2 linked regions of the Homo sapiens genome follow. The protein of the gene in region 1 interacts with the protein of each later gene in a pairwise test. Each region holds a gene or a part of one and is shown in the gene's direction. Other genes may lie near its edges.

Region 1 (17,168 bases):
TCCGAATTACCAGCATCACTACTTTTGTGCTTCAAGGCCATTCATAATGGCAAAATAAGGGTGACTTGAACACAAGCACTTCAATACTGTGACAGTTGATCTGATAAGTGAGATGGCTACTAAGTAACTAATGGGTGGGTAGCATACACAGCGTGGATACACTGGACAAAGGGAAGATTCATGTCCCGGGAGGGACAGAGCAGCACAGCAAGAGATGTCATCACTACTCAGAACAGCACACAATTTAAAACTTAAGAATTATTTATTTCCAGAATTTTCCATTTACTATTTTCAGACCACTGTTGGCTCCAAGTAACTGAACAATGAAAAGCAAAATGTCCGATAAGTGGGGCTACTGTATTTTATTGGAATAAGGGACTTTATCTAAAAGGGAGAAAATTGAAATATCTCATTAGAATAATAGCTTTTTAAAGTTGATACTACCATATCTTATTGGTTATTATTTGATGTGTAAAGTTTTTTGGTTTTTAAAAAATAAACACTGATTTACCTAATACCATTTAAATGTGTAATAATAAGGAAAGATTGCTTTGGCTATCTTCCAGCTTGTGGAGAGACTCCAGAGCAAATACGAGCACCAAGTGGCATAATCACAAGCCCAGGCTGGCCTTCTGAATATCCTGCAAAAATCAACTGTAGCTGGTTCATAAGGGCAAACCCAGGCGAAATCATTACTATAAGGTAATTCTACCTTTCTGTATTACTATATAATTTATTACAAAACATAAATTCCATTTTCATTTATTATTACTTAACATGCAGTAATATAAAAAGAAGGCTTTTCAGGAGATGTAATAAAGAACAGCTATTAGCTATTGGTGTCATCTTAAGAGTAAGAGTAACAGCCCATCTGGTATGTGTTTTGAGTATTTTCTAAGGGTGGTAATGTATTTGCATTGAATCATCTATATTCTTCTAAGCTACTTTTTAACAAAATATAGACATTTGCAAAATAGCCTATTAGGGTCAAGACTAACCTTTGGCAGTGGAACAAACAAATAAACAAAACTCATTAATTCACTTGGATATCTAGCTCTTAACCTTTGTCTCATTAGTAGAGCCTTCTACCTAAATGAGTTAAAACACAATTTGTCATGCCTGTCTGTATATGTGTATGTATGTATAAAACTTGAAACAAACTGATAATGGAGAAATACTATATCTAGAAAAATCTTTGTTTATAACTTCGAAACAAAAGAACATTTGTTAAGAATACAAATGAAAGGCATTCCTAGGGGAAATAGCTGTAAGTTTAAGATTCTAAGAATGAATGTGACATATAAATAAGGAAGGTTAAGATTAAATTTTAAAACATTTAGCAAATTACTTGCAGAGAAAAACAGTACGGGAATAAGATTGTAAAGAATATATTTAGTAGAACTAGATACTGCTTGCTTAGGAAAATTCTATCAAGGCCATTAGGAAAAAAATATTTACCTACAGGGGAAAAAAAAATAGCCCGAATGAAGAACTGCAGTTGGAACAAAACACAAATAAGAATGTCATTTCCATCACAGAGACAGTGTAGCACAAAGGCACCTTCAACATGTTTTCATGTGTAACATTGTATGGGTAGGAGGCATAGAATTTTAGATTTAGAAGAGACTTTGGAGATCATAAACTCAAATTCCTTCATTTTATGTTTTTAAAATAAGACTTATACATTTAGCCTACTTTCTCATCTTTTTTCATCTTCCTTTTTTGTATTTATTAACTGATGAGGAAACCAATCTCTCTTGAGAAGCATAACTGTCATCTATCTCCTTTTTTTGGTGGAAACCACAAACAAGGGCCATAGTTTGTTTTCCTTTTATTTTCCTCTACCCTACATTACCTCTTCTGGAACCCCAGAGCTTGGCACATACAAAAGCTGTTGTTCTCCTCCTCCATGCAGTGTTTTTCTCTTGCCTGATTGAGTGGTAGAATGCACCATTAAGGTTATCTTTCTGTAACAGGGTCAGTGTTTAAATGTAAATAATATACCTATTTTCTGTTACTTGTAGTGTGACTAAGTATGTTTACAAAATAACATTTTTACCACATATTGGGAGTTTTTTAGCATAAAACTAGAATTTATAGAGACCTTCACCTTTTAACCTAAAAATTTAACTTACAACTTATAGCTCAGTTTTGTAAAACTTGAAAATCTTACCAGCACAGAGGAGATTACATGAAATACTGCCATCTGGTTTTGATAATGTATTGCATCCTTGAGATTTCATGAGGTTAAGATACACTAAAAACCAAGCACAATACTGAAATGCAGAATAAAATTGAAGTGAGCCCTACAGCTAAAGGAAAATTTCCTGAATTTTAGAAGGGAGCAATGAATTTCGATGTATACAGATCAGAAGGTGATTTTAGTAATTGTTCAGATTCTTTACTGAAGTCATTATCATGGTAATACCATAACTTTAAAAAGATGACACACCTGCATATACACAAAGACAAGTTTTACATATGATTATCATTGCATAATCTTAAATGATTCAAAAGAATCATATGCATAATTAAATGTAGCTCTTTTAGACATACAAATGAGTCAGTATTAGGAAATATTAAATTAACTTACCATGTAAACAAGTCAAAAGAAAAAGTATATGATTATCTAGTGTACACAGATGCTTTGAAGCATCTTGGTAAAAAAGAAAATCAGCATTCATTCCTGAATTTAAAATAAAAATTTTAAATTCTTAGTAAAATGGAATTAGAAACATGATTTTTTAAAATCTGGATAGAAGAGGGAAACTAAAGTTACGGAGTAAAAACAATACTGAGAACTGTCTGTATAAAACTTGCTTAAGATGGTGAAATAAAGGCATTTTTACTTCATTCCTCTCCCTTGGAACCCACTATAATCAACAAAGGCCACCTTATCCATGGGGAAGAGAGGATTGAATACCAGCACCCTGCTTGAAGCCAAGGACTAGGGACGGGCAATTTTGCTCCAGACAGGAGGCTGAAAAATCTTCCACCAACCACAGCCTGAATTTATATGGGGCTGAGAGCTTAGAGAGCTGAGAGGGCATAACCTAACAAACATGAATAACTATGTCACCTGCTGACTCCATGAAAGGATCTGTAATACTCTGAACCATCATTTAAGACTTGTTCTGGAATGTAGACCCAAGTAGGGGAACATAGAAGAAGAGAGGATTAAAAAAAAGAGAGAAAACCAAAAAACTTCCATAAAATAAACCTGTAAACCAAAATTCCAGAATGTGTGAAAAAATTGAATGCTGAGAAAAACAGCCAAACAAAATTAAGTTGGAACTCAAATTTACTCCAGGCATTTTAAGATGTATTCTGTCAGGAATTATTTCTTAACTTTCTTTATGCCACGGCCACCTAGTATTCTGGTAAAACCTATGTATTCTTTCCCAGAATAATGTGTTTAAATTCATTAAAAAAAATACATAGCATTACAAAGGGAACCAATTATGTTAAAGTACAGCTATCAGATATTTTTTAATATTTGTAATGTAATATATGCTTATTTATGAACACATTAGCAAAATCAAGTGGTTAATTTCAAAGAAAAAATTTTACGTGTAAATAGTATTTTTAGATATCTGTAAAAACTGAAATGTAACATAAAAATATCTCTAATTTTGAATAGTGGTGGAGTGGCCAGTGCTATAAATACTGTCATGGTTTGTTGTTTATAAGTGTAGGAAATGCTAAATTTTAGTAAAAGGTTAGTGAAAATAAAGCTTTAAATTGTTTCTACCCTATTTGTGATTTTTGAGGGGACAGGAGAAACACCGAATATTCTTACTTGGACTTTGTTAGAAAAAAAGTGTGTTTCAGCATTTCAGTTAAAATATCAAAAGGTAGCCACTGATTAAAAATAGGAGTAATATTGAGCAGTTAACAGAGGAAAAGGAACTTTAAAAATATATTCAAAAAAGACAGGAAGCTAGATGTGGTGGCTCACGCCTGTAATCCCAGCACTTTGGGAGGCTGAGGCAGGCAGATCACTTGAGGTCAGGAGTTTGAGACCAGCCTGGCCAACATAGCGAAACCTCATCTCTACTAAAAATACAAAAATTAGCTGGGCATGGTGGCACGCGCCTATAATCCTAGCTACTCAGGAGGCTGAGGCATGATAACTGCTTGAACCCAGGAGGTGGAGGTTACAGAGCCAAGATCATGCCACTGTGCTCCAGCCTAGGCAACAGAGTGAAACCCTGTCTCAAAAAAAAAAAAAAAAAAAAAAAGGAAAGAAGGAAAATGAGAACTCTCTCCCAAGTAGAAAGGTTGTAACACATCTAAAACAAAACTAATACAGAATGTCTAAAAACAAGGAGATGGGCCAGATGCTGTGGCTCGTGCCTGTAATCCTAGCATTTTGGAAGGCCAAGGTAGGCTCAGGAATTCGACACCAGCCTGGGCAAGGTGGTGAAACCCTGTCTTTACAAAAAATACAAAAAACTAGCTGGGCATGATGGCACGTTGCCTGTGGTCCCAGCTACTCAGGAGGCTGAGGTGGGAGGATTACCGGAGCCCAGGAGGTTGAGGCTGCAGTGAGCCATGAATGCACCACTGCACTCCAGCTTGGGTGGAAGAATGAGACTTAGTCTTAAAAATAAACAAAAACAAAACGAGATAGAAAAGGTTAGTTTTGGAGCTACTCATCAAGAGAAAGCTAGTGTAGGAAGATTAACATCCATTGTAATTGAGCTTAAGGCACAAAATACTAGTAACAATTGGGGTATTCTACCAGGAAAATAAACCAGCAGTAAATTTCATTTACTTAATTACATAGCCTAAAATACATGCAAAGCAAAATGTGGAGAATTGCCCGGCAAATTTGACCAATCCACAGTTGCAGTGGGAGATTTTTAACACACCTTTAATACTTATTTCAACAAAGAATACACATTCTTTTCAAAGACATGTGGAACATTTATAAAAATTGATTATGTTTCACATCACAAAGGAACTCTTAATACATTTCAAAGACTGTACATCATTCAGATTGTGTTTTCTTACCACAATGCAATTAAAATAAAAGAAAAAAATAAACCTGTATGTTTAGAAATATATTCCTAAATAACTCCTGAATTAAAGAGGAAATCACAATGGGACCAAATATTTTTTAAATAACCATAGTGAAAGTAATACATATTAAAACTGTTAGAATACATTGAAAGAATACTTAGAAAAGTTTACAACTTTAATGCATTGATTTAAAAATTAGAAAATAAATAAGCTCAGCATTTAACTCAAGAGTTAAGGAAAAGAATTAGAGGGTAAATTTTAAAGTAGCAGTAAAGACCAGGAAAATACGCAATAAAATTCAATAAAACAAAAAGCTGACTTTCTGAAAAACTCAGGAAAATAGATAAAACTCAAAGCAAAACTGAAGAAAAAGAGAAGATAAAAAGAGCAAAAGTGTCTGTAGTTATAAACAAAATTTTTAATGTCATAAGAGAATATTATAAGCAGTTTTATGTTAATACTTTTATACAAGTAGATGAATTGGATTATTTTTTAGAAAATTTATATTACTAAAATTGATTCAAGAAGAATTAGAAAACGGATGAAATCAGTAGCCATTGAAGAAATTGAATCAGCATTCAAATTAAGACTCTAGAACTAGTTTTATAGGCAAGTTTTACTAAATGAATAGAAAAGGAATTTCCTTAACCTGGTAAAGGGTGTCTGTTTAAAAATTTTCAAAAGCAAATTTAATGTCAAAGTTAATTATAGCACCAAGGACCAAGACAAAAATGTGTGCTTTTACTGGTTATAGTAGAATTCTTAGTGAATGCAACAGTGCAACAGATAGAAATCAGTGATATAAAGAAAATAGGAAGGAAGAGAAAACCTTTATTTGCTAATTATATGTTTGTTTTAAGCAGTCTAAAGCAAACTTAAAGATCACAGATAGGAAAAAATGTCTTTAAATTGTATGAAAGTACTGTGTACAGAGCTTTGTAGTAATAAATTTTACTATCAACATAAGATCAATTTCTAAGAAAATTTAAATGGTCAAAAGTTTAAGAAACACTGATTAAACCAAAAAACATCAAGAAATTGAAACTCTCTCCCTGACTCAATATATTCTAAATAGGCACAGAGCACAAATATGTCAACAGTGCTTTTATTACACAAAGTACTATGAAGCATTTAAAAAACCAAAAAGTAATTTTACTTATTTAAAAATCCTAAATGAATTAGCAAACTAAAATAGGGTATACATGAACAGATATTTATTGTTTCTTATTCTAAACAAGGTTTCTGCCTTCATGAATCTTTTTTTTTTTTTTTTTTTTTTTTTTTTTTGAGAGACACAGTCTCGCTTTGTCACCCAGGCTGGAGTGCAGTGGCGCCATCTTGGCTCACTGCAACCTTTGCCTCCCGGGTTCAAGCAGTTCTCCCGCCTCAGCCTCCCGAGTAGCTGGGATTACAGGTGTGTAAAAACTAAAACTCTGAAATGCTTAAAAAATAGTTGAACATCTTTGGGATCTTTGGAAACACCAAGATAGCTTAGAGAGGACACTAAATGCACTAAACATAAAGCAAAAATAAAAAATTAGACTTCATCAAGACTAAAATTAAAAACCACGCCCAACTAATTTTTGTATTTTTAGTAGAGATAGGGTTTCACCTTGTTGGCCAGGTTGGTCTCGAACTTCTGACCTCAGGTGATCCACCCACCTCAGCCTCCCAAAGTTCTGGGATTACGGCGTGAGCCACCTCTCCCAGCCTTTGCCTTCATGAATCTTAAATGTTTAGTGGACTAAAAGTTTATTAAGGGATTCCCTAGTTTGAATGGGACTAGACCTCCCATAAACAAGAGCTATTAAGTTTGGATAAGATATTTTAAAACCAAACTAGGGATTCCCTAGTTTGAATGGGACTAGACCTCCCATAAACAAGAGCTATTAAGTTTGGAAAAGATATTTGAAGGCTCTGGAGAGTAATAAAAAACTGGCAAAAACTGGAGAGTATTCCACCCCTGAAAGAAGGAACCACACTTCGTGAGATAGGCTTGTTTCCTACCAGTTCTCTGAAGATTCTTGCCAGTCTGTGCAACGTGGAGTGACTGGAACTCAAGCAGATCACCGTGGTCTTGTCAGCTTGAGGTGTCAGGATGCAGTTGAGGATGGGACAGTAACTGGAAATTAATAAGGTAACTCCTGGAAAGGAGAGAACCACAAGCTGGAAAGTAACTGCATTTAAATTATTCTCGAATCCTTAGCTGACCCATGAATTGTGTGTGCTTAAAGAAGACTCCAAGGAACCTGCTGGAAAGTAACAGCAGGAAGGCTGAAGATTTCAGCTGCTGCACCCCACAGCAGAGGCAGCATGTGGAGTTTGAATCCTGTCCATCACAGGGGAGACCGAGTATAGGGCTTCATAAATAAATGCCTTGAGATTTTTAATGAAACTCTGTGTGTCATACTTTACAAGTAAAGACAGTGTCCTTAAACTAAGAATTCCCCCTAAGACTAAGGGCAAAGCAGAAACAAACTCACTTTAAACAAGTGTAAAACCAAACCTCCTCAAGTTCATAGTCATCAGACTAATTTAACTGTGTGATAGAACAAAAATTAGTATCTTCTATGTTCTAGATAAATGTAAGAAAGAAGAATCTCATTTTCTACTTGAAAACACGAAAATTTATATAAATCTCAGCTATAAATGTAAAAACTAAAACTCTGAAATACTTAAAAAGTAGTTGAACATCGTTGAGATCTTTGGAAACACCAAGATATCTTAGGACAACAAATGCACTAAACACAAAGCAAAAATAACAAATTAGACTTAATGAAGACTAAAATTTAAAACTTCTGCTTATTAAAAGGTTCCATTAAGAAAATGAAAAGACAAACCACAGGCTGGAAGAAAATATTAGCAATACACATGTCTAACAAAGGACTTGAATCCATTTTTTTTTTTTTTTTGAGGTGGAGTCTTGCTCTGTCGCCCAGGCTGGGGTGCAGTGGTGCGATCTTAGCTCACTACAACCTCCACCTCCCAAGTTCAAGCAGTTCTTCTGCCTCAGCCTCCCGAGTAGCTGGGACTACAAGCATGCACCACCACACCCAGCTAATTTTTGTATTTTCAGTAGAGACGGGGTTTCACCATTTTGGTTGGCCAGGCTGGTCTCGAACTCCTGACCTCAAGTGATCTGCCCACCTCAGCCTCCCAAAGTTCTAGGATTACAGGTGTGAGCCACCATGCCCGGCCAAGAATATAAAAGGGATTTTTATAACTTTTTTTTTTTAATGGGCAAAAGACATGAACAGATACTTCACAGAAGATATAAAAATGGCCAATAATCACATGAAAAGATGTTCAGCAAATTTGTCTTCAGGGAAGTGTACATAAAACCACAATAAGAGATCACACCCGTCAGTGACTAAAATGAAAAAGACTGACCACACTGACTATTGGAGAGAAAGAATGTGGATGTAGGTGGATATGACATGTCTCACATAACATACATGCCCCCGAATAAGCTCATGTTTATAATATGTAGAGTTCTTAAGAAATATTAATGAATAAAGGAGGCAATTTGGAAAACAAGGCAATTTGGAGTAAAAGAAATAGAAATAACCCAAAAATTGGAAAAGGATTTCAATCTCAGTAAATAAAGACATGCTAAATAGAAGTGATAAATCTCTTTTGTCTACCTAATTGGCAAAACATTTTTAAAAATAGAATATGTCATTTTGCTAAACGTGTGGGGTATATGGTACTTTGGTACATACTTGGTAGAACTGTAAATTCGTATAAACATGTTTTTCCAGTGTCTGTCAGATTTAAAGAGGAATTATTCTTCTGACCTAGCAATACTAGTTCTAGAATAGTTTGTCCTAGAGAAATTCTTGTTCTTGTAAGAGAGATACGTACATGTATAAGGGTTTTGTTTTGTTTGGTTTTGTTTGGTTTTGTTTTGTTTGAGACGGAGTCTCACTCTGTTGCCCAGGTTGGAGTGCAGTGGCACAGTCTCGGCTTACTGCAAACTCTGTCTCCCAGGTTCAAGAGATTCTCCTGCCTCAGCCTCCCGAGTAGCTGGGATTACAGGCACATACCATCATGCCCGGCTAATTTTTGTATTCTTAGTAGAGACGGGGTTTCATCATGGCCAGGCTGGTCTCAAACTCCTGACTTCGTGATCCGCCCACCTCAGCGTCCCAAAGTGCTGGGATTACAGGCGTGAGCCACCATGCCCGGCCAGGAGTTTTTAAAGCATAGTTCATAATAGTGCAAACCTGGAAACAATCAAATTGTCTATCAGCTTTTGTTAGTTATTCAGAATATTTGAAGAAGAAACATTCTGGTATAATAATCCTTGGGTAATTAACTTTATTATCACTTAGTTTAAGGCAAAGGCAAGAATATAAAGTCAGATCTTTACTTTTTGGTGAGGCATATTCAGATATTGTAAAACTGTATTTTGGTTTCTCTTTTTTCATAAGCAGTGACTAATTTTCTGTGTGCATTTATTTATTTGATGTTTTTGGCCTATACTTATGCCCACATTTTATTAACTACAAGATAGTATTTGGCTATAAAGTGATTTATGTAAAAAAGTATTCCCAAACTCAAGGACTTTTCACCAAAAACATTTTTCGTGTGTTCCTTTTTCAGTCTTTTACCTTGCTCAGATTTGTGCTAATTACTCTCCTAAGAATGTCAGCTGCAAACTTTTCATTAAGCAGGTATTAATCTAAGAGAAGGCTGAGTTTCTCTGTGTTTACTTCAATTCATCAGATTGGGGAGAGGTGATTCTGGTTGGAACACAGAACAGTTTAGGATGTTCTGAGTTAGAAGTGGTCTTTCCCAACCGTACACACAGAGAAGAAAAAGAAAAGGTGCCAACTGTCACCTGTTTTTTAACATTATTTTGGAACCTAGCATTACTTGTGAAGAATTATTTTTCTACAATCTGGGGAAGAAATACAAATATGAGGAACATAGAATTAGTATTATTATTTGCTAATGATACGGTTGTATGCCTAGAAAACCCAGGAGAATCAGTCAGTATATGGAGGCTTATAATAATATCCTCAGTTACTTTGTAATACGATTTTTTTTTCCAAAATTGACTTTTTAATAGACATTTCTGATTTTTTTTTCAGTTTTCAGGATTTTGATATTCAAGGATCCAGAAGGTGCAATTTGGACTGGTTGACAATAGAAACATACAAGAATATTGAAAGTTACAGAGCTTGTGGTTCCACAATTCCACCTCCGTATATCTCTTCACAAGACCACATCTGGATTAGGTTTCATTCGGATGACAACATCTCTAGAAAGGGTTTCAGACTGGCATATTTTTCAGGTGTGTTTTTAAATAAGAAAGATATTGAACTGAATTTTATGGTATTAACTGCTCTGTCACTTCGGAGCTAATCTTCTAAGTAGTGTTCATTTAATTAGGAGTAGGCCCTTGAGGCAGCTGAGATTGAGGATTAGAAGCTAAAGTTAGATGCCCTAAAGCTGGGTCTCCAAAAGGTGTTTTGTATAATTCTAACAAAATGATTAACTTCATATACTAAGGTTAATTTTCTTTTTAAACATCTTAAATACATTTATTCTAAGAATAGCCTTTTCTCCCTCAAGTGCTTACGCATATCCAGAAAGTTACTTCAGAATGTATTTTTGTGGTAATTGTCATTGTTTTTATACCTCCAGAGAAAAGACCTAACAAATTTCACCTTCATAGTTTATAGTCTCAGAAAAAACGACATCTTTTCTTTTCTTAAATTGTGTCTAAAAAACAAGACCAGATCATACAAATGTGAATAATTCAGAATTAGTCCTCTCTTTTAGATCAAAATGCAAGATCTTCATGGAATAATAATAAGTATTTAACAAATTGAATTGTTGAGTAAGCATGCCAGTACTAATTTGTCATTAGAACCCAACCTGTTAAATCATTCCATTTATAAAGATACATACACACATACGTTGATTGCAGCACTATTCTCAATAGCAAAGAGATGGAATCAAACCAAATGCCCATCAATGATAGACTGGGTAAAGAAAATGTTGGTACATATACACCATGGAATACTATGCAGCCATAAAAAGGAGCGAGATCATGTCCTTTGCTGGAAGCTGGATGGATGGATGAAGCTGGAAGCCATTATCCTCAGCAAAATAACACAGGAACAGAAAACCAAACACTGCATGTTCTCACTTATAAGTGGGACCTGAACAATGAGAACACATGGACACAGGCCCCAGATTTATTGTGGCCTTTCTAGGGAGGGTGGGGTGGGAGGGAGAGCATTAGGGAAAAGACCTAATGCATACTGGACTTAATACCTAGGTGATGGATTGATGGGTGCAGCAAACCACCATGGCACATGTTTACTCATGTAACAAACCTGCACATCCTGCACATGTACCCTGGAACTTAAAATTAAAATATTAAAAAACCAACCTGTTTTTTAAAACTTCTAGCACTTGGGCTTTATGAACATTTATTATAAAAATATCACTTGCTGTTTTATGTCTTTTAAAGATTATAATTTTTCTCCTTCTCTTTCCATCTATTTCTACTCACATCTTCACAGGGAAATCTGAGGAACCAAATTGTGCTTGTGATCAGTTTCGTTGTGGTAATGGAAAGTGTATACCAGAAGCCTGGAAATGTAATAACATGGATGAATGTGGAGATAGTTCCGATGAAGAGATCTGTGCCAAAGAAGCAAATCCTCCAACTGCTGCTGCTTTTCAACCCTGTGCTTACAACCAGTTCCAGTGTTTATCCCGTTTTACCAAAGTTTACACTTGCCTCCCCGAATCTTTAAAATGTGATGGGAACATTGACTGCCTTGACCTAGGAGATGAGATAGACTGTGATGTGCCAACATGTGGGCAATGGCTAAAATATTTTTATGGTACTTTTAATTCTCCCAATTATCCAGACTTTTATCCTCCTGGAAGCAATTGCACCTGGTTAATAGACACTGGTGATCACCGTAAAGTCATTTTACGCTTCACTGACTTTAAACTTGATGGTACTGGTTATGGTGATTATGTCAAAATATATGATGGATTAGAGGAGAATCCACACAAGCTTTTGCGTGTGTTGACAGCTTTTGATTCTCATGCACCTCTTACAGTTGTTTCTTCTTCTGGACAGATAAGGGTACATTTTTGTGCTGATAAAGTGAATGCTGCAAGGGGATTTAATGCTACTTACCAAGTAGATGGGTTCTGTTTGCCATGGGAAATACCCTGTGGAGGTAACTGGGGGTGTTATACTGAGCAGCAGCGTTGTGATGGGTATTGGCATTGCCCAAATGGAAGGGATGAAACCAATTGTACCATGTGCCAGAAGGAAGAATTTCCATGTTCCCGAAATGGTGTCTGTTATCCTCGTTCTGATCGCTGCAACTACCAGAATCATTGCCCAAATGGCTCAGATGAAAAAAACTGCTTTTTTTGCCAACCAGGAAATTTCCATTGTAAAAACAATCGTTGTGTGTTTGAAAGTTGGGTGTGTGATTCTCAAGATGACTGTGGTGATGGCAGCGATGAAGAAAATTGCCCAGTAATCGTGCCTACAAGAGTCATCACTGCTGCCGTCATAGGGAGCCTCATCTGTGGCCTGTTACTCGTCATAGCATTGGGATGTACTTGTAAGCTTTATTCTCTGAGAATGTTTGAAAGAAGGTCAGTATCAAGACAGAACTATTGGGCCTCAATAAAAGCAGGCCCAAGTGTTTGAAACAAGTTCTTTGATGATTAGCAATGTATTTTTGTTTTATATTAGTTTAGAAAATGGATAAAGATTGTTGATGATGTATAAAATTAGCGTGAAAAACCCGAGACTCAGAAGGCCAGACACATTACAAACTAAATATTTAGAGTTATGAGAAAAAGCCCATCTATTTACCAGCTCCTGTTTTCAGATTAATCTGTTTTATAGGAATATTGTAAGCTGCAGCTCTCAGTTTTAGTGTTTTAACCTGTATTTTTCTAAATACAAATTCAAAAATTCCAGTTATTCTATATGCTATGTTCAAAGCATACAGGTAAATAGAAAAATGAATAAGGCATAATATCACAAGCAGTTTACAGTTAGGAGGAAGGAATTGGGGCATGGAATAAGATGACAAAAGTATAATACTATAAAGAGCTATGAAACAAAATGGTATAAAGTCAAAAATACGTAATCTAATGAGGGAGAGAGGCAGAAAGGCTTTAATTGGAGGGGTGCCACTTGAAATGTATGAGTAGAAGAATATAGATAGGGGAAAAGGTGTTGTTAAAGCAATAACCTAGGAAAATATATAGAAGTAGGAATGTCCAGCATTGCTCAAAAAGTAAGCACATGATTCAGTTTATCTGGAGCCCAGGATGCGTATGAAGGGCTAACAGGAGATACGATTGGAACACAAGACTAATGTCCTGTTGTAGAGTTAAGTGACAACAGCACTTCAGAGTTCTCAGTTCAGTAAGAAATGGTTAACTGTTAAAGAGTGACCTTCAGAGTGAGTAGTTTTCAGTTTGATGCAGGATAAATGGGACCTGGCAGAAGTTAATGGCAGAGATGTCCCTGTGGAGACAATGACCTTCAGTCCCAGGAGAATTACAAATAATAGATTTAACAACTTTTTACGTAACAGATGGCTAATAGGTGGCACACAGATGCACAGTATCGTAATAACCATTACTGCATCTTTTCTTTTTTTTCCTTTTTTTTTTTTTTGTTGTTTGTTTGGAGACGGGAGTCTTGCTCTGTCACCCGGGCTGGAGTGCACTGGTGCGATCTCAGCTCACTGCACTCCGTCTCCCAGGTTCAAGCGATTCTCCTGCCTCAGCCTCCCAAGTAGCTGTGATTACAGGCGCCCGCCACCACGCCTGGCTAATTTTTTGTATTTTTAGTAGAGACAGGGTTTCACTCTGTTGGCCAGGCTGGTCCCAGACTACTGACCTCGTGATCCACCCGCCTTGGCCTCCCAAACTGCTGGGATTACAGGTGTGAGCCACGGCGCCCGACCACTGCATCTTTGGCCAAGTGTAAATGGCCAGAAAACTTTTTACCACATTGCAACAAAAGAGCACAATGAAGAGTCAAAGATCCCAGCTGGGCGCAGTGGCTTCAACGTATATTCAGTAAATACAGTATTCTTAGGAGTTTTTAAATCTTGTATTATTTCTCCCTTTACCTTTTACAGGGATTTTCATTTATTAAAACTCAGTGATCTAGGCTTCTACTAGCATAAAGCCCTATGAAGACAGACTGCCTGCGTCAGCTTTGTATTCCCACTGTAGGGATAATACATATATTCAGTAAATGTTTGTCAAATGACTAAGCTTTAAAATGATCAAATATGCCAAGACTCAGATTGTTTTAATTACTGATAATAGAAAATTGTTCTTTTTCTTCGCTCCCCCTTTTAATCATTTTTCTTTCCATCTACTCTCAAAGATCATTTGAAACACAGTTGTCAAGAGTGGAAGCAGAATTGTTAAGAAGAGAAGCTCCTCCCTCGTATGGACAATTGATTGCTCAGGGTTTAATTCCACCAGTTGAAGATTTTCCTGTTTGTTCACCTAATCAGGTATATTGCAATGTGTAATTTCTATTACATTTCCTCTTAAAATGAAATCTGCGCCTGTATATATGATAAAGCAAAGACCCTTGACTGTCAGAATTTTTGCAATCAAGGATTTAAATGTATGGAAGATTTGAAGTCATAGTTTTCATTATAGTTTAACACTACAAACTGCAAAAGTATATTTTTCATTCCTCTGATTTGGTTGTGCAATTCTTAAGCATTTTACTGTTTAGGATAATTTAGTGCATTATAATTCAAAAGTATTAAGCTTGGCAAATTATTTTTTACTTGACCTGAACATCTGCAAGATTTAAGAATGAACACTAAAATTAATATGCTAGCAATATAACATGCTAGATTAACCACTTATAAGTAAAAGTAATTAAAATGAAGTTAACATTTCTACCTCAGGAAAAACATCTTCAAGCTGGATTTTACAGTGTTTAACAATTTATAGCATTTTGTTTATATAGTAATTCATTATATGTTTCTGAATTCTTTCAATTTCTTAGCAATTAAAAAAATTTTTCTCGTAGTGCTTAAAAATGTGCCAGTGTTCATTTTAGGCATAAGGATTTATTCATTTAAATTGTAAATTCATTCAGAAACATTTATAAAAACTGTTGTTTCCAGTATTATAATTAAAACTGGTAAACATTGTTTTCCCAGTAATATAATTACTTTCAAAATAGAATACCATCTCCTTTTTGGTAAATGTGAGTTCTGATTACAGTCTATCACCTTATTGGAGTATTTTAGGAAATCTTTGGTGAGAATTTGTAGTTTCAAAACATTTCTCCATATGTAATTTCCTAAGTAAATCATTCAGAAGTTCCACTGTTGGAATTTTGTGTGCAAAGTAGGAAAAACCTAAGTTGTGGCTTCTTTATATCAGCCCTGCTATGGGGAAAGTTTTTTTTTAGGTAAGAATCAGATCACAGTTAATTTTACACACCTACTTCATTCTCTACCACCCACCATGCCTAAACCCCATAAAGTTAGAGAGAACACGGTACACACAAGATTGTCTTCACTCCTAACACCAATTGCAAATTCAAGGAGTTCCCCAAATCCCCTTCAGGTTTGATAATTTACTAGGAACACTCAAAAAACTCACTGAAAGCAGCTCACTTGCGATTACAGTTTATTACAGGGAGAGGATACAGACACAGATTAACCAAGGGAAAAGATGCATAGGACAAAGTTCAGAAGGGTACCAAACATGGACCTTCCAGTTGTCCTTTCCCCATAGAGGCAGGAGGGCATTACTGTGTGAACACAGATATGTGACAATATGCATGGAGTGTTACCAATCAGGAAAGCTCACCCAGGCCTCGGGTGTCCGGAGTTTGTACTGGTGCACTAGCACATAGGCAGGATTAATTGCACATGTGGCCAATCCCAGTTTCTAGCCTTATCCAGAGATTGACTGACCCAAAGCCCTCACCCTACATGACACTGTTGGTGTGGTTCAGAGCTTCCAGTCTAAATCAGTTTTACTATCTGGCTGGTCCAAGGCCCCCAGGCAAAGACACTGCTTTCAGACATGACAGTGGAAGGGCTTGGAGATGATGTACCAAAAGCCAAGGACAGAGGCTTTGGGTGAGGTTAAATTCTTTATTACCTCACACTACCCCAGTTTCTCAGGTTATATGTACCCTCGTGGGAGAATTCTACTTCAACATTTTAGAATAAAATATGTTTATGGGTGGTAAGTTAGATTGTATTCATTTAATGAGATTAAAAACTCTCAAGTTTGAAGCTTTTGGTAACAAATTACCAAATTTTTATAGCAGATTTTGGAAAAAATAAGTAATGATGTAATTCACCATCTCACTCAAAGGAGAAACGCTTTTTGAGGAATGCTTTCTCCTTCATAAACTGAAGAAGTATATGAAATTATTCCTAGAACATTCGTGAGATCCCCTCATAAAATATAATGTTAGATTGCCAATCCTAATTAACTGACTTTTAACTAAATAGAGAGTTTCACCTCAGTATGACAAACCAAATGTTAAAGTCAGCAATAAAGTATGTTGAAGGCATTGTTGATCTTGATGGCTAATAGCAGCACAACAGAGGATAACAGAAGAGCCTTTTGTTCATTGCTGGACATAATAGCATAGTGCTCAACATGAAGCCTTAAAACTTGCATGCTCACTGTTGAGGAGCAGATCTGTGGAGAAGTTCATTATAAATGTGAACCGCTTTTTCTTTTTCTTTTTTTTTTTAATTTGTAGTTAGGTACTTCTTAATTGGTGAAAACTCTTACTCATCTGTATAGCAAATCCATGTGTGCTGATATCCAAATTTCTTATTGACAATCTGTGCCTTACTAATGTTAGACTATGAAATGTTCCTATGATAGTAGCTTCTTATCATAAATTATGTTCATGGCACTATGGAAGGGCCTATATGGAAAGCATAAATAAATGCAATACCAGTCACAAAGAGATACAGAACATAAGAGGACATCTTCCTTATTTTCTACCTTCTTTCTTCTGTGAGGGGAAAGGGAAGAGGTGTGAGTTTTGGCAGGAGATGGTATCATCAACTGAAGGAGAGTATATCAACTTAAGATTGTTTCCTGGAAATACAATTTTTAAA
Region 2 (15,054 bases), on another chromosome or scaffold:
CTGCTTCTCCCCAGCAGCATGCTGGCTCCAACCCAGGCCAAAGGGTTACAACCACCTATAACCAGTCCCCAGCCAGCTTCCTCAGCTCCATATTACCATCACAGCCTGATTACAATAGCAGTAAAATCCCTTCCGCTATGGATTCCAAGTAAGTGAATTTTTATATACCGCATGTACAGTGAACTTATATCTGAGGAGTTTGCGAGGGGGTAGGAGTTTTGGGGGTATGCTGCAGTTCATTCTTTACTATCTAAAAAGGCAATGTGACCTTACAGTCTCATTCCATAGTTCTACTAGAACATGCTGAACCAGGGTACTGGCAATAAGAGGTCATCTGACTATTCTCCAGTGTCCAAGCTGCGCTGAATCCAATTACCTATTACCCCATAAAATTATTTACCCATTATTTTCCATCTTTGAAAAAAATAATTTCTCACATACCAAAGAACAATGAACTTTTCCTTTAGTTCTAAGCTAAGCTCCTCATGCTGTAAATTTAATTCCTCTGGTTCTGGGCTTGGCTAAGATGAACACCTGTCTGCTCTTCTTCAGATAGGATTTCCTCTCACATAAGCAGAGGCTATTAAGTTTCTTCTCAGTCTTTTCTTCCTATCCCTTTTCCCCTCTAATCCTGAATATCCACTTGGCTGAAAAATTTTTAAATTAACAAATAAAAAAACCTGGAACTCAGACCCTGGAATGTATACATTTTCCTTACTGTGATCAGAAGAAGGAAGGCCTGAATAGATGAAGGCTTATGACCTTACGGTTTCGTTTGGTAATTAAAACCACACCTTGTTCAAATTAGTTGGGTTGATCTAAATACAGGGACTAATACTGGGGCCTTATGTAAACATGTGCTATTTCCACTACCCTAAGACTGTCCTAGGAGAACCTAGTATGAAAAAGGAGATGGTGGTTATGCTTTTTTTAAAACATGAACTGAATACCTTGTGCTTATGCAAACTATTGGCTATCAGCTTTCCTGTTCCTTGGCTGGCTGGAACATCAGAGAATTAAATCAGAGGCATCTCAAAAATTGTCTGATGGAATATGTTTTGTTGCAGGCTTACTAATACATTCACTCAACTCTGCTAATTTCTCGCAGTCTTCTCTAGAGGCTAATTTTTCTACAAACTCCTATTATTGGTGACAACTTTGGAAATCTAGTTGAACTGCCTATAGCAATTCAACTTGCAAAAAAAAACCTTTTCAATATTTTAAAAAATAAAAATCAGGAAAACCAAAAACATTTGTTAGAATCCTATAGATATTAAGTTGAACCATTTGAAATGGCTGATAGTCAACTGTTTTTGACCTACAAAAATGGCATTCTCACAGGTTTAACCTAATATTTTAAAAGGATGTTTTTAATAATTGAGAGCCCTTTCTTTCTCTTCCCTCCCAAATTCCCTTTATAATATATAGATCTTTCTTGGTTATATTTACCCAGATGATCATTTTCCATCTAGCTTTCTATTATTTCCATATTTCCTATATTAGCATTTTAAAATCTAGAAGAATTTTTTGTTTTTCTTAGTAAAGTCTTTCAATCATATTTCAAATTACTGCCCAGAAAAGAAAGTGATCAAAGACTTAAGAAAAGAGAAAGGCAAAAACATAATAAGAAATAAAGCCTAGGAGGTCCCCAAACCAGAGATCAAAGATCCACTTTAGCTGTTCCATTTTCAGCAACCACAGATAACTCTTTAATCTTCCCATAGCTACTTGATACCCATTTCGTGTCCAGCTGTGCAGAGTGGAAAGCCCTGGCCCTTTGAACATTTGTGCACAACTCCCTCGTTATTATGGGCTCCAGTTCGCCCTGACTTCCAAAATAATCCCTTGGATTCTGACCTAGAGAAATTTGAAAGCTTTATTTAGATTTTCATCAATAGGAAGCTCTTAGGCAAACATTTTACCCAGTTGATCAAACCACAGACTGAAAACTGAGGGGAACTCAATTGTTCCTTCCAAAAAGCTTGCTATGTGAAATTCAGCAAGCACTTTACCTACCCAGTGCTTCAATTTTCTGGTCTGTAGCAATATTAAAGAGTTAGGTAATTAATGATAGAGAAAGGACCTATAAAGCAGTGTGCAAACGTACTATTAGTTTGTAAATGGGAGCATTTATCAAGTCGTAACACTTAATCCACCTAAACTGGGAATAATGAGAGTATTCAGTGAACAAAGTGACTGAGGTTACATATACATCAGTGATTCTCAGGATTGGTTTTGATAATCCTTCAGGACTTCTCAGATATATTCAGAATTTCCCAGATATGACAAGTCTAAAAACAATTATTTAATGCTAATTCACATTAACAAATGTGTGACTTATAAAGATGATAAGCTAGCATTTTTAAAAAAAAAAAAAACAGTAGGCTAGGCCAGGTGTGGCTCACACCTGTAATCCCAGCACTTTGGGAGGCCAAGGTGGATGGATCACCCAAGGTCAGGAGTTTGAGACCAGCCTGGCCAACATGGTGAAACCCTGTCTCTACTAAAAAAAAAATACAAAAAAATTAGCAGGGTGTTGTGGCAGGCACCTATAATCCCAGCTACCTGGGAGGCTGAGGCATGAGAATCGCTTAAACCCGGGAGACATAGAGAGAGGCAGAGGTTGCAGTGAGCCAAGTCCATGCCATTGCACTCCAGCCTGGACAACAAGAATGAAACTCCGTCTCAAAAAAAAAAAAGTGGTCTATTATAATTCTATACGATTGAAAAAATATGAGATCTATAAGGCCAAAGAGATTTTGACACTTTGATCTAGGAATTCAATCTTTAAAAAAAAAATCGCTATTTTAAAAAACATTTTGTTTGGCTATTAACTGAACAAATCAGACTTTAAAAATTTATATAGACAACCATAAAGATCTTAAGACCTGAAATGTCAGGAGAGGAAATGTGTATCATTAGCTTTCAATAGAGTGTCCTGAATACTATGAAAATCACTCATTCACTCAACTGATAGTATCTCCTATACCCATGCTCTGTGTTCGTGGATATAAATGATATAATGATAACAAATAAGACATATTTTTTCTCCAGAATGTTTACAATCTAATGATTACTAACCAAGTTCCCAAAGCCAGTAAAAATTAAAACTCTGGCCCTACTTGGAGGAAATACATTTATACTTAGCTCACAAGTCCTTTTAATGATCCTTGAGAATATTTGGAAAGGATCATTTCAGAGAAGAGACCAAGATTGTCTCATCTGGATAGCCAGAGAACATTTATTATAATAATGGTAAAATACTCATTGAGGGCAGTGGCTAGTTTCCTCACATTAAATAGATTAATAAAGATTAGTCCCTGCAGGCCGGGTGCGGTGGCTCAAGCCTGTAATCCCAGAACTTTGGGAGGCCCAGGCAGGCAGATTACCAGAGGTCAGCAGTTTGAGACCAGCCTGGCCAACATGGCAAAACCCCGTCTCTACTAAAAATTCAAAAATTAGCTGAGCATGGTGGCGGGTGCCTGTAATCCCAGCTACTTGGGAGGCTGAGACAGGAGAATCACCTGAACCCGGGAGGCAGAGGTTGCAGTGAGCCGAGATCGCGCCACTGCACTCCAGCCTGGGCAACAGAGCGGGACTCCATCTCAAAAAAATAAATAAAAATTAAAAATAAAGATTAGCCCCTGCAGGGCTCTGAATGGATAAACTAGGTAAAAACTGAATAAAGCACTGTGATACATTTAAGCTACCTAACAGATCTAAAAATACAGGACTCTCTAAATACCACCCTATCCTCTATCAGAATCAACAAGGGAAATACGGGAGGGGCAAGGACATCATAGAAAAAATTTAGGATCAAAATTTGAAATAAAGACTTTATTTGCTTTTTTCCAGTTTACATTTCTTTCTCCTTCCTCAAATCATCCCATTTTTTCTCTAAAAATCACTTCAGTAGTATTGAAGAAACTGTCATTACTTTAGAAGTTATTTGCTGTTATATAGTGCCATACTTGGATTTTCTAGAATATGAAATTAATAGGAATTGGAAATTACAGGAAAGTCAATGACTGTGTAGACTCCATTCAAAGCAAAAGATTATTCACTAAAAGCCAGTGGTGTGCTGGTAAATGTCTAACAATCACTGGACAAAAGAGCCATTATTTGTGATATTTACCGATTTCCCTGGTGTAAATATTTCCACCACAACCAATTTCAAACTATAACATGAAATCATAGGAAGCTGGGAAAAGATGCTAAAAATCAGCCCATATGAACCAGCTCCAGAATACCACCACTTAATATCTACCCATAAATCAAACAAGAAATTCGGTCATCGTAGCTATAACAAAGAACAAAATTACGTCCTTTGCAGCAACACGGATGCAGCTTGAGGCCACTATCCTAAGCAAACTAACACAGAAACAGAAAATAAAATAGAGCATGTTCTCATTTATAAGTGGGAGCTAAACATTGGGTACATATGAACACAAAGATGAAAACAATAAACACTGGAGATCCCGAAAGCAGGGAAAGAGGTGGAAAAGGGTTCAAAAACTAACTATCAGGTACTATGTTCACCTCTTGGGTGACAGAATCATTAGAAGGCCAAACCCCAGCATCATACAATATACCCATGTAACAAACATGCACATGTACTCCCAGAATCTAAAAAAAAATTTTATTAAAGAAATTACTCATAAGATTGGAAGAGCTCTCAAGCTGCCACTAACTAGACTTACTCTCACATTCCTTAGGGAATATCTTCAAGGAAGGACATCCTCCTTATGTCTAATCTAAATTCTTCCTCCTGACACTTAATTTCCATTTGCCAAAAGGAAAAAAAAAAGATAGTAACCATTCTTATAAAATATTTCTTGACTGTTATTAGGGCAATTTGTTTTTAATAATACTAGTAGTACTAAGTGGTAAACTCAACATATCTAAAGGTAATTTGCAAAATGAGGCCAAGACCTTCTTTTTAAAAATCTTTTCTTTTTCCTTTTTAAAGCTATCAACAGTCCTCAGCTGGCCAACCTATAAATGCAAAGCCATCCCAAACTGCAAATGCTAAGCCCATACCAAGAACTCCTGATCATGAAATACAAGGATCAAAAGAAGCTTTGATTCAAGATTTGGAAAGAAAGCTGAAATGCAAGGACACCCTTCTTCATAATGGAAATCAAGTGGGCAAGATGTCTATTTTGTACAAAAGGCCAATTAAACTATAAAATCTAATTTTAATAAGGAAGTTCTAGCTCACAGATCTAGGTCCATATATCAACAAGGAATAAGATTATCTAAAAAGAAGGAATATTTGGGCCCTATTCCATTTCTCTCTGCATGAAATCACCTCTTGGTTTACAGTAGTAAAAGAATGAAGCAAATGAAAAATGTATCTGAATGGTTTAATGAAATTTTTCTGTTATTAAATATTACCCTCTCATAAAATATGTCTGATGCCCAAATAGCTATTAGGAATTACTGTCAAGTCAACTTAGTGTACTTTGATGTATAACACTGACAGGTAATTATTGCTATAATTCTTATCATGTAGTCCTTATTGTGTATATTATATTAGTAACTTATCTTTAAACAGTACTATATGCCTTTAATACAAATACATTTAGCCTATCAGTTGGACTGCTCTCAATCAGAAGTTAGTACAATCAAATATTCAGTGCTCATTTAATAAAAGTTACTTCTGGCTGGGTGCAGTGGCTCACGTCTGTAATCCCAGCACTTTGGGAGGCCAAGGCAGGTGGATCACCAAGGTTAGGAGTTCGAGAACAGCCAGACCAATATGGTGAAACTCCATCTCTACTAAAAATAAAAAATTAGCCAGGTGTGGTGGCATGCACCTGTAGTTCCAGCTACTTAGGAGGCTGAGAAAGGAGAATTGCTTGAACCCAGGAGGCGTAGGTCGCCATGAGCCAAGATCGTGCCACTGCACTCCAGCCTGGGCGACAGAGTGAGACTCTGTCTCAAAAATTAATTAATTAAAATTAAATAAAAATTACTTCTGAATGTGAGCACATGAAGTATTATATTCAAAAACAAAGCTGACTGGAACATGCAGAACAACGGAGGAAAGGGTTGAATTTCCCTTTACTTAGGAGATCCTTATTTAAGAGTGATTATGCTTGCCTGTCATAGGAGCAAAAAGAAAGCCTAAGTGAACCTTTACTGCAAGTGAGGGAAATGGTACTAGAATAGAAGGAAAATGCTTTGAATGGAAGAAAAGACTTTAAAAAAAAAAAAATAGAATCAGCCGAGCGCAGTGGCTCACGCCTATAATCCCAGCACTTGGGGAGGCCGAGGCGGGTGGATCACAAGGTCAGGAGATCAAGACCATCCTGGCTGACACAGTGAAACCCCGTCTCTACTAAAAATACAAAAAATTAGCTGGGCATTGTGGCAGGCGCCTGTAGTCCCAGCTACTCAGGAGGCTGAGGCAGGAGAATGGCGTGAACCCAGGAGGCGGAGGTTGCAGTGAGCCGAGATTGTGCCACTGCACTCCAGCCTGGGCGACGGAGTAAGACTCCGTCTCAAAAAAAAAAAAAAAAAAAAAAAATAGAATCTATCATTCAATAGATAGAACTATGCTTCTTTGAAGTTCTGACCTATAGTAGTGGTTTTAAGGTAAACCTGTACAAACATCTTTTATTAAATCTAATTACTGTCTCAATAAATTCTCTAAAGCGTCTAACATATGAAGAGAAGATGGCTCGCAGATTGCTAGGACCACAGAATGCAGCTGCTGTGTTTCAAGCTCAGGATGACAGTGGTGCACAAGACTCGCAGGTAAGTTAAAATGCTCTAAGTGGAGTATTTTTATTCTGTGCGATTTTTAAATGTCTGCTTTTCTAAATGCTTATAAATAGCATCTGAAATAAAAGTCGGTCAGTTCCATCCACCACTGGATACATAAAGAGGCCATGATAAACATATATACATAATTTTACCACATTTTACCCCATTTTCTGGTAGTTCTAATACCTGGATACACAACGTCACAAAATCAAAACACAAGAAGTCTAATGGTATTATTTTTTATCAGGACATTTATGGGTCAGTTAGACCTAGGACTCTCTATGGTGTCTACACGGACAGGGAATATATGGGTTGTGAACCTCCAATAGGACAGAAATTAAGATTATAAATGAAAGTAATTATAACCTTTCTCATAAGCTGTTTAACATTTCAATGTTTTAAAATATACTTGTGGTACTAATGAAACATCCAATTCCTTTTGTTATATTCCTGTTTTCAAAAAATGCTTTCTGAAAACCAAAAAAAACCCCTCATGAGTAATTGTTCTAAGATTAACAAATGTATCCTTTCCAAGAAGGGTTTAACTTTATGGTGGCACATCCCACAGGTTTGCACCTGATCGATTTTTTTTTTTTTTTTTTTGAGACAGTCTTGCTCTGTCACCCAGGCAGGCTGGAGTGCAGTGGCACAATCTCAGCACACTGCAAACTCCACCTCCCAGGTTCAAGTGATTCTCCTGCCTCAGCCTCTCAAGTAGCTGGGATTACAGGCGCACACCATCAGGCCCAGCTAATTTTTGTATTTTTAGTAGAGATGGGGTTTCACCATGCTGGCCAGGCTGGAACGCCTCGGCCTCCAAAAGTGCTAGGATTATAGGCATGAGCCACCACGCCTGGCCTCAACTTGATTTTAACAAGTAAACTTAACCCCAAAGAAAAATGTACAGTTGGTGGCTGGGCACAGTGGCTCACGCCTGTAATCCCAGCACTTTGGGAGGCCGAGGTGGGTGGATCACGAGGTCAAGAGATCGAGGGGATGCTGGCCAAAATGGTGAAACCCAGTCTCTACTAAAAATACAAAAATTAGCTGGGCGTGGTGGCCTGCGCCTGTAGTCCCAGCTACTCAGGAGGCTGAGGCAGAAGAATCGCTTGAACCCGTGAGATGGAGGTTGCAGTGAGCCAAAATCATGCCACTGCACTCCAGCCTGGGTGAGAGAGAGACTCCATCTCAAACACAAAAAAGAAAAAAGAAAAATGTTCAGTTGGACAGGTAGACTGAATGTTAGCACTCTTTCTTCCTTCATAGTTACCTTCCATTCCCTCCAAAAAGTCCACAAGAAACTGGGAGCCAAAGAGATTAAACCAGGAACACAAATATTCCTAGCTTCCAAATGTAGAAAACTGAAATTCAGTTTTTTTTTTCCAACATCTACTTCCCAAGTTCAAGTGATTCTCGTGCCTCAGACTCCCAAATAGATGGGACTATAGGTGCGCACACCGTGCTGGCTAGTTTTTGTATTTTTTAGCAGAGACGGTGATTTCACCATGTTACCCAGGCTGGTCTCAAACTCCTGAGCTCAAGTGATCTGCCTACCTCAGCCTCCCAAAGTGCTGGGATTACAGGCATGAGCCACCACACCTGGCCTTTGAAATTAAGTTTTTTGGTTCTGTTTGATGCAACTACACCTACTAAAAAGGATGGAAGAGGGTCTACCAGAGCAAGAACTAGAAACTGAAAAGAGAACTTAAATTTATTTTTGGCTACTAAACAGTTCATGAATTCGTTCATTCAACTAATTTACATGGAGAACCTACTTGTATGTTGGGCTCTGCACTTGGTATGGAAGATTATAGCAAAAATGAGACACAAACTCATCACTATTAGGGGAATTACTCAAAGCAATATTATACTGATGATGGTTCATCTTTTTTTTTTTTTTTTTTTTTTTTTTGAGACGGAGTCTTGCTCTGTCACCCAGGCTGGAGTACAATGGCGCGATCTCGGCTCACTGCAAGCTCCGCCTCCCGGGTCCATGCCGTTCTCCTGCCTCAGCCTCCCGAGTAGCTGGGACTACAGGCACCTGCCACCACACCCGGCTTTTTTTTTTTTTTTTTTTTTGTATTTTTAGTAGAGACAGGATTTCACCTTGTTACCCAGGATGGTCTCGATCTCCTGACCTCATGATCCACCTGCCTCGGCCTCCCAAAGTGCTAGGATTACAGGCGTGAGCCACTGTGCCCAGCCTGGATATTTTTAATTGGATTACTTTTACTTTACCAAAAAATTAGTTGATTTGTTTGATCACTGAATTGACCAGTTGTCTTGATATTTTGCTTAGAGAACCTTAAGGCTAGCCAAAAATTGTTACAGAGTTGTAAGACTTTTGCCTTAAAAATGACAAAATACATTAGCTAAATAGATTCATCCCAAAGCAAATTATTTGTACTCAGATCTTGTGTGCTCCTACAGAGCTTTGGGTAGGGACTGTGTTTTCCACTTTGTATCTCCCACTGTGCTAAGCACAGTGAAACGCAAAATACACACTACTTAATCAATTAGTTCTCTTATAATTTTCATAAATCCCTGATTTTATTCTCAAATAGAAATAATTTTCTGCTGTTCGGATATAAATCCTAAAAGATGTCTGCTTAAATACAACTTTATTAAACAGGAATTAATGCTATTTTACAAAGCTTTTTCAAAGCCTTACACATACCTTTCGTGGAGTCCATCAGGATTTTGTGCCACGAGCTAAAAAGAGAAGAATTTTCCAGTCTAATATGTGTTTACTGCTGTTGGTGCCACTTTTGAGCAGCAGGCATAATACCCTGCAGCTACTGCCAATACAAGTGACTTCATGTCTATTCCTGTTTTACTAAAGGACAATCTGTACTCTGTGCTCCCATTTCAAATGCACCAGGGAGACACATCACCCTTTGTCATAAAATAGTCATCTGAAAAATGAACCACCATCAATTCCAAGTCTAGCTAATTTTCATAAATAATACTTGTTGAATAGTCCCATTAATTCTGGGCTTCTTGCTAGAGTGGTAGTATGTTAGTGCACTGTACTTTAAGGGCTTAAAAGCTGAATATATAGAACTTACCAGGGCTGTTCAAATACAGCCAAAATAGGAATGTTCCTTTCAACTGTAACTACTTAATTCTGCTTCATTCAAGCTAACAATTGCATGTAAACATTCTTACTTTGTTTTAATTTCAAGCAACACAACTCAGAACATGCGCGACTGCAAGTTCCTACATCACAAGTAAGGTAAAAAATTTTAATTTTAAAGAAATGTATGTTTTCCTATCTAAAATATTTTCAGCTTAAAAATGTAATATTTATAAAGCCCTCGAGCCTACTCTATACCTTTTGAAAAATACAATGTGTATTTTCTAATGTCTGAGAAGATGACCAAAATTTTGACGTTCATCATCAAAACTATCACAGGGGAATTTTTTAATGTTTTGGTCAAATAAGCCAGGATCATGCTTCTATATTAAACAATTTTCTCATGACAATGGAGACCTAATTCTTATTATACAATCTTTGGTGGTAAGAATAATCTGCTGGGTACTGGGCATTTTAATAGACCATTTCTTCATCAATTCATGGCACTGTAAAAGAGAAACTAAGATGTACAATTTGTACCAGATGTTTCTAAATTGCTACCATTTCTAATAGTCATCAAATATGCCACAGGTAAATACAGCCCTAAGGCCTCTCTTCATTGTTATTACACTATCAGATCAAACAGTAGATTCTGTGGTTTCAAATTTGATGGCTAGGCTGGACGCAGTGGCTCACACCTGTAATCCCAGTACTTTGGAAGGCCGAGGTGGGTAGATCACCTGAGGTCAGGAGTTCAAGACCAGGCTGACCAACATAGTGAAACCCCATCTCTACTAAAAATACAAAATTAGCCAGGCGTAGTGGCACATGCCTGTAATCCCAGCTACTCGGGAGGCTGAGGTAAGAGAATCACTTGAACCCAAGAAGCGGAGGTTGGTATAACTGAAATACCACATCTCTGAATATAACTATATACATGTTCACACCACCACTATAGAAAAACGTCAAAAACTTAATTTGGATATTTTTATTTATTTATTTATCTTTGAGACAGACTCTCACTCTGTCATCCAGGCTGGAGTGCAGCGACGCGATCTCGGCTCACTGCAACCTCCGCCTCCCGGGTTCAAGCGATTCTCCTGCCTTAGCCTCCTGAGTGAGCTGAGATTGGGCCACTGTACTCCAGCCTGGGCAACAAGAGTGAAACTCCATTGAAAAAAAAAAATTGATGGCTAAACTATATTTGTGCAAAATGAAAAGCAATGATAATATTTACGCATAGTTGTTACCAAAATATTCTTGTAGAAGTAGATCAACCTCAAGGGGAGATGTGAATGATCAGGATGCAATCCAGGAGAAATTTTACCCACCACGTTTCATTCAAGTGCCAGAGAACATGTCGATTGATGAAGGAAGATTCTGCAGAATGGACTTCAAAGTAAGAGAAGGGTTCAAAAGTACTGGGGGAAAATTAACAATGGGATACTAAGTTTTGAAAAATGTTCTTTTCCTACTTCATAGCTTGCAAAGCAGTACGTACAATGGACAAGAACACAAATTCTGAAGTCAAACTGATGTGGGTTTGAATTCTGGCTCTGCCATCCTCCAGCTAAGCAACCTTAGACAAGTCATTTAACCTCTCTGTGCTTTTGTCTCCTCATCTGTAAAATGGGATAACAAATACCCCAAAAAATTATGAGGATTAATTGAGTGGATAGGTATACCTAATAAATACTTTTATAAGTGAAGCTATCAGAACAATATAATTTTTAAAGTACAATGCCCTTTTTTTTTTTTTTGAGACAGGGTCTTGCTCTGTCACCCAGGCTGGAGTGCAATGGCACAATCGCAGCTCACTGCAACCTGTCTCCCAGGCTCAAGCCATCATCCCAACTCAGCCTCCCTAGTAGCTGAAACTACAGACGCGTGCCACCATGCCCAGCTAGTCTAGAACTCCTGGGTTCAAGGCGATCCACTCACCTTGGCTTCCCAAAGTGCTGGGATTACAGGCGTGAGCCACTGTGCCCAGCCTTAAAGTATAATGTCTCTCCAATTCTCCTCTATCAAGAAATTCAAGCCACCCTGCTTTCTCTTGGCCTAAAAGAGTCCCTCAGACTAGAAAAGCTCTTTAGAAGAGGTTATATTTTTATTATCCTTATTTTGGAGAACTTTTCCTTATAAAATTTTTTTTCCAGATTCCTTATGAACTCAAGTTAGTGTTAAAGCTTTGGATTCCACTGTTAACAGTTTATGTAAAAACACTTAACAAATTGCCATTTATATGCCAAACTATAGCTCAAGAACACTCTGTTTTAGAAAAATTACGCATTAGATCAGGAAGCCTCATATATATGTGCCTCTGGGACTTCATTTGCAGTCACATTTAGCCAGAAAAGCAATGACTTCTATATTCCTTATGGAAACCAATGTAACATAAATTAATGTTCTAAATATAGAAATTAAGAGTTCATAAAGAGACTGAGGTTGCATGTAAAAGAGTTATGGTTTGAGACAGTCTAAAAATACTATGTTAATTTCAAGGATCTTATTTCCAATGTTTTGTTTAAAAAATTATAAATACTTTTGAGCTCTTGCTTTGCATTTCAATCGCAAACCCACTCAGATACGGGAACTGTTTAAATTCATATATGGACAAATAGGTTTCAGTGATGCAATACTTTAAAATTCTGCCATCTCCTTGTGTTTTTCTTTCTAGGTGAGTGGACTGCCAGCTCCTGATGTGTCATGGTATCTAAATGGAAGAACAGTTCAATCAGATGATTTGCACAAAATGATAGTGTCTGAGAAGGGTCTTCATTCACTCATCTTTGAAGTAGTCAGAGCTTCAGATGCAGGGGCTTATGCATGTGTTGCCAAGAATAGAGCAGGAGAAGCCACCTTCACTGTGCAGCTGGATGTCCTTGGTAAGCCTCCAAAGAGACCCTTGAGAATTCCTTAAAATCCAGAAGTATTGAAAAAAAGAAAGTATTTTAAAAGAAAAGCCCAGCAGACTTCATATTTAAGGTTAATGTCTATACAACCTATTGGAATGTCCATTTTTATCTACAAACCACAGGAAAAAATATATATATATACACACACATACATACATATATAGATATGTGAAGGAAAGTCAGTGAAACTAGAATGACAGATCTATCACCAAAGCTTTTCTGGAAAGAAAATAAATCATACAATTTTAGACAAACCAAATAATGAAGCATAAGCATTTCTAGACGTAACTATAGAGTCTCAAAATGAAAATCTTAGTCTAATCATTTCTCTGGTCTTTGTTTCTCCAAAATGAGGATAATAAAAATAACCAATCTGACTCACAGTATTACAGAATTATCATAATCTGTCAAACGTTAAATACATAGTTTAAAAGTGAAGAGTAGGCTGGGTATAGTGACTCAGGCCTGTAATCCCAACACTTTAAGAGGCGCCAAGGTGGAAGGATCACTTGAGCCAAGGAGTTTGAGACCAGCCAGGGTAACAAATAGCAAGATCTTCTTTGTCTCTACAAAAAATAAAAAAATTAGCTGGGCATAGTGGTGCACACCTATAGTCCCAGCTACTAGAGAGGCTAAGGCAGGAGGATAACTTGAGCCTGGAGTTTGAGGTTTCAGTGAGCTATGATTGCACCACTGTACTCCGGCCTGGGTGACACAGTCAGACCTTGTTTAAAAAAATTTCTTAAAAAATCAAGAGTAAATATCAACTTTTAGCCTTAGACTATGTCCTTTTTACTAGGAAACTAATGTCTAATTATAACCAAAACAGGCCTACTTGCTTTAGAAAACAGGTATGGCTACATTTATGTCTCAAATCTGTCTTAAGTAGAGCAGTTCTTATAAAACTGGTGTCTGGTTTTTAAATTTTACACTTTAAGTGCTTTAAATATACAAGTTGAGTATCCCTAATCCAAAAATCTGAAATCTTTAAGATGCTCCAAAATCGACATGACACACAAAGGAAGTGTTCATTAGAGCATTCTGGATTTTCAGGTTAAGAATGCTCAACAAGTATAACGCTAATATTCTAAAATAAAAAAAAAATCAGAAATCCAAAACACTTCTGGTCCCAAGCATTTCAGATAATGGATACTCAACCCATACCATATTTTTAATACTTTAAGCCATTGTATATTGCATAAGAGATATTTTGCTATAATTCACTATTTATTATACAGAAGTTTGATCAGGTTAAAGGATAAACTATTTTCTTGAGTTTATATTCTACCCAGATCAATACAAAATCTTTAAGATTATTCAATAATATACCAAAGGGCCTCAATCTCAGGGGAAAAACTAGTGGGCTGGAAATTTTCAAAAACACATACAATTTAAGTGATTAAAGTTTAGACAAATCCTATTTGTACCAATGGCTTCAGAAATACTACAATAGTAGAGCTGAAAGAGATCTTGGCTGCCATCCGTTTAATCTCATTTCTCCTTCAGAAAAACCAGGGTTATGGTACTGAACTATCGTTTCCTGTCTCCCCTCAGGTAGCTGAAAATAAGGTCATAATAATTACTGATATTCCCACATTCCTTCAGAGTTTACAAAGTATCTCTTTGTTTATTATCTCATTTGTTCCTTACAATTATTTTGTGTGGTAGACACAACAGTCACTACTACCGGGATTTTTTTTTTATAACAATAGATAAAACTGAGACTCAGAGAAACTAAACAAAATTTTACCAATTTGGCATGGCTCATGGAGCCAATAGGTAATTTGAACCCAAGCTGTCTGATACTCTTTCCATCACTCATGCTGCCTCCCTGTAGATGAGATGATAAAGAATATAACTTAAATTTGGGCCAGGCACGGTGGCTCATGACTGTAATCCCAACACTTTAGGAGGCTGAGGTGGGCAGATCACTTGAGGCCAGGAGTTAGAGATCAGCCTGGCTAACATGGCAAAACTCTGTGTCCACTAAAAAAAATACAAAAATTAGTTGGGTGTGGTGCACACCTGTAATCCCAGCTACTCAGGAGGCTGTGGCAGGAGACTTCCTTGAACCTGGGAGGCGGAGGTTGCAGTGAACCAAGATCACGCCACTGCGCTCCAGCCTGGGCAAAAGAGCGAGACTCTGTCTCAAAAAAAAAAAAAAAAAAAAAAAAAAAAAAGAATATGACTTTAGTTTGAATGAAATATAATTATCTGATTATCAATTCAATGCATCATTACATTAGAGTTTAGAATTCTGAATGGTATAACAAAATAGTACTGCATGTCTTT

Evidence for each region.
Region 2: the proteins of LRP12 (region 1) and MYOT interact in a two-hybrid assay, tested with the Homo sapiens proteins (one study listed by IntAct).

What each region holds. Positions count from the first base shown.
Region 1 is NC_000008.11:104,492,473-104,509,640, reverse strand, and holds part of LRP12 (low-density lipoprotein receptor-related protein 12 isoform a precursor), read left to right. Parts: intron 1-566; coding exon 567-702; intron 703-10,121; coding exon 10,122-10,324; intron 10,325-11,564; coding exon 11,565-12,669; intron 12,670-14,431; coding exon 14,432-14,564; intron 14,565-17,168. UniProt on the Homo sapiens protein: Probable receptor, which may be involved in the internalization of lipophilic molecules and/or signal transduction. May act as a tumor suppressor.
Region 2 is NC_000005.10:137,870,860-137,885,913, forward strand, and holds part of MYOT (myotilin), read left to right. Parts: coding exon 1-148; intron 149-4,969; coding exon 4,970-5,144; intron 5,145-6,660; coding exon 6,661-6,762; intron 6,763-9,448; exon of another isoform or gene 9,449-9,956; coding exon 9,957-10,006; exon of another isoform or gene 10,007-11,113; coding exon 11,114-11,246; exon of another isoform or gene 11,247-12,524; coding exon 12,525-12,732; exon of another isoform or gene 12,733-12,762; intron 12,763-15,054. UniProt on the Homo sapiens protein: Component of a complex of multiple actin cross-linking proteins. Involved in the control of myofibril assembly and stability at the Z lines in muscle cells.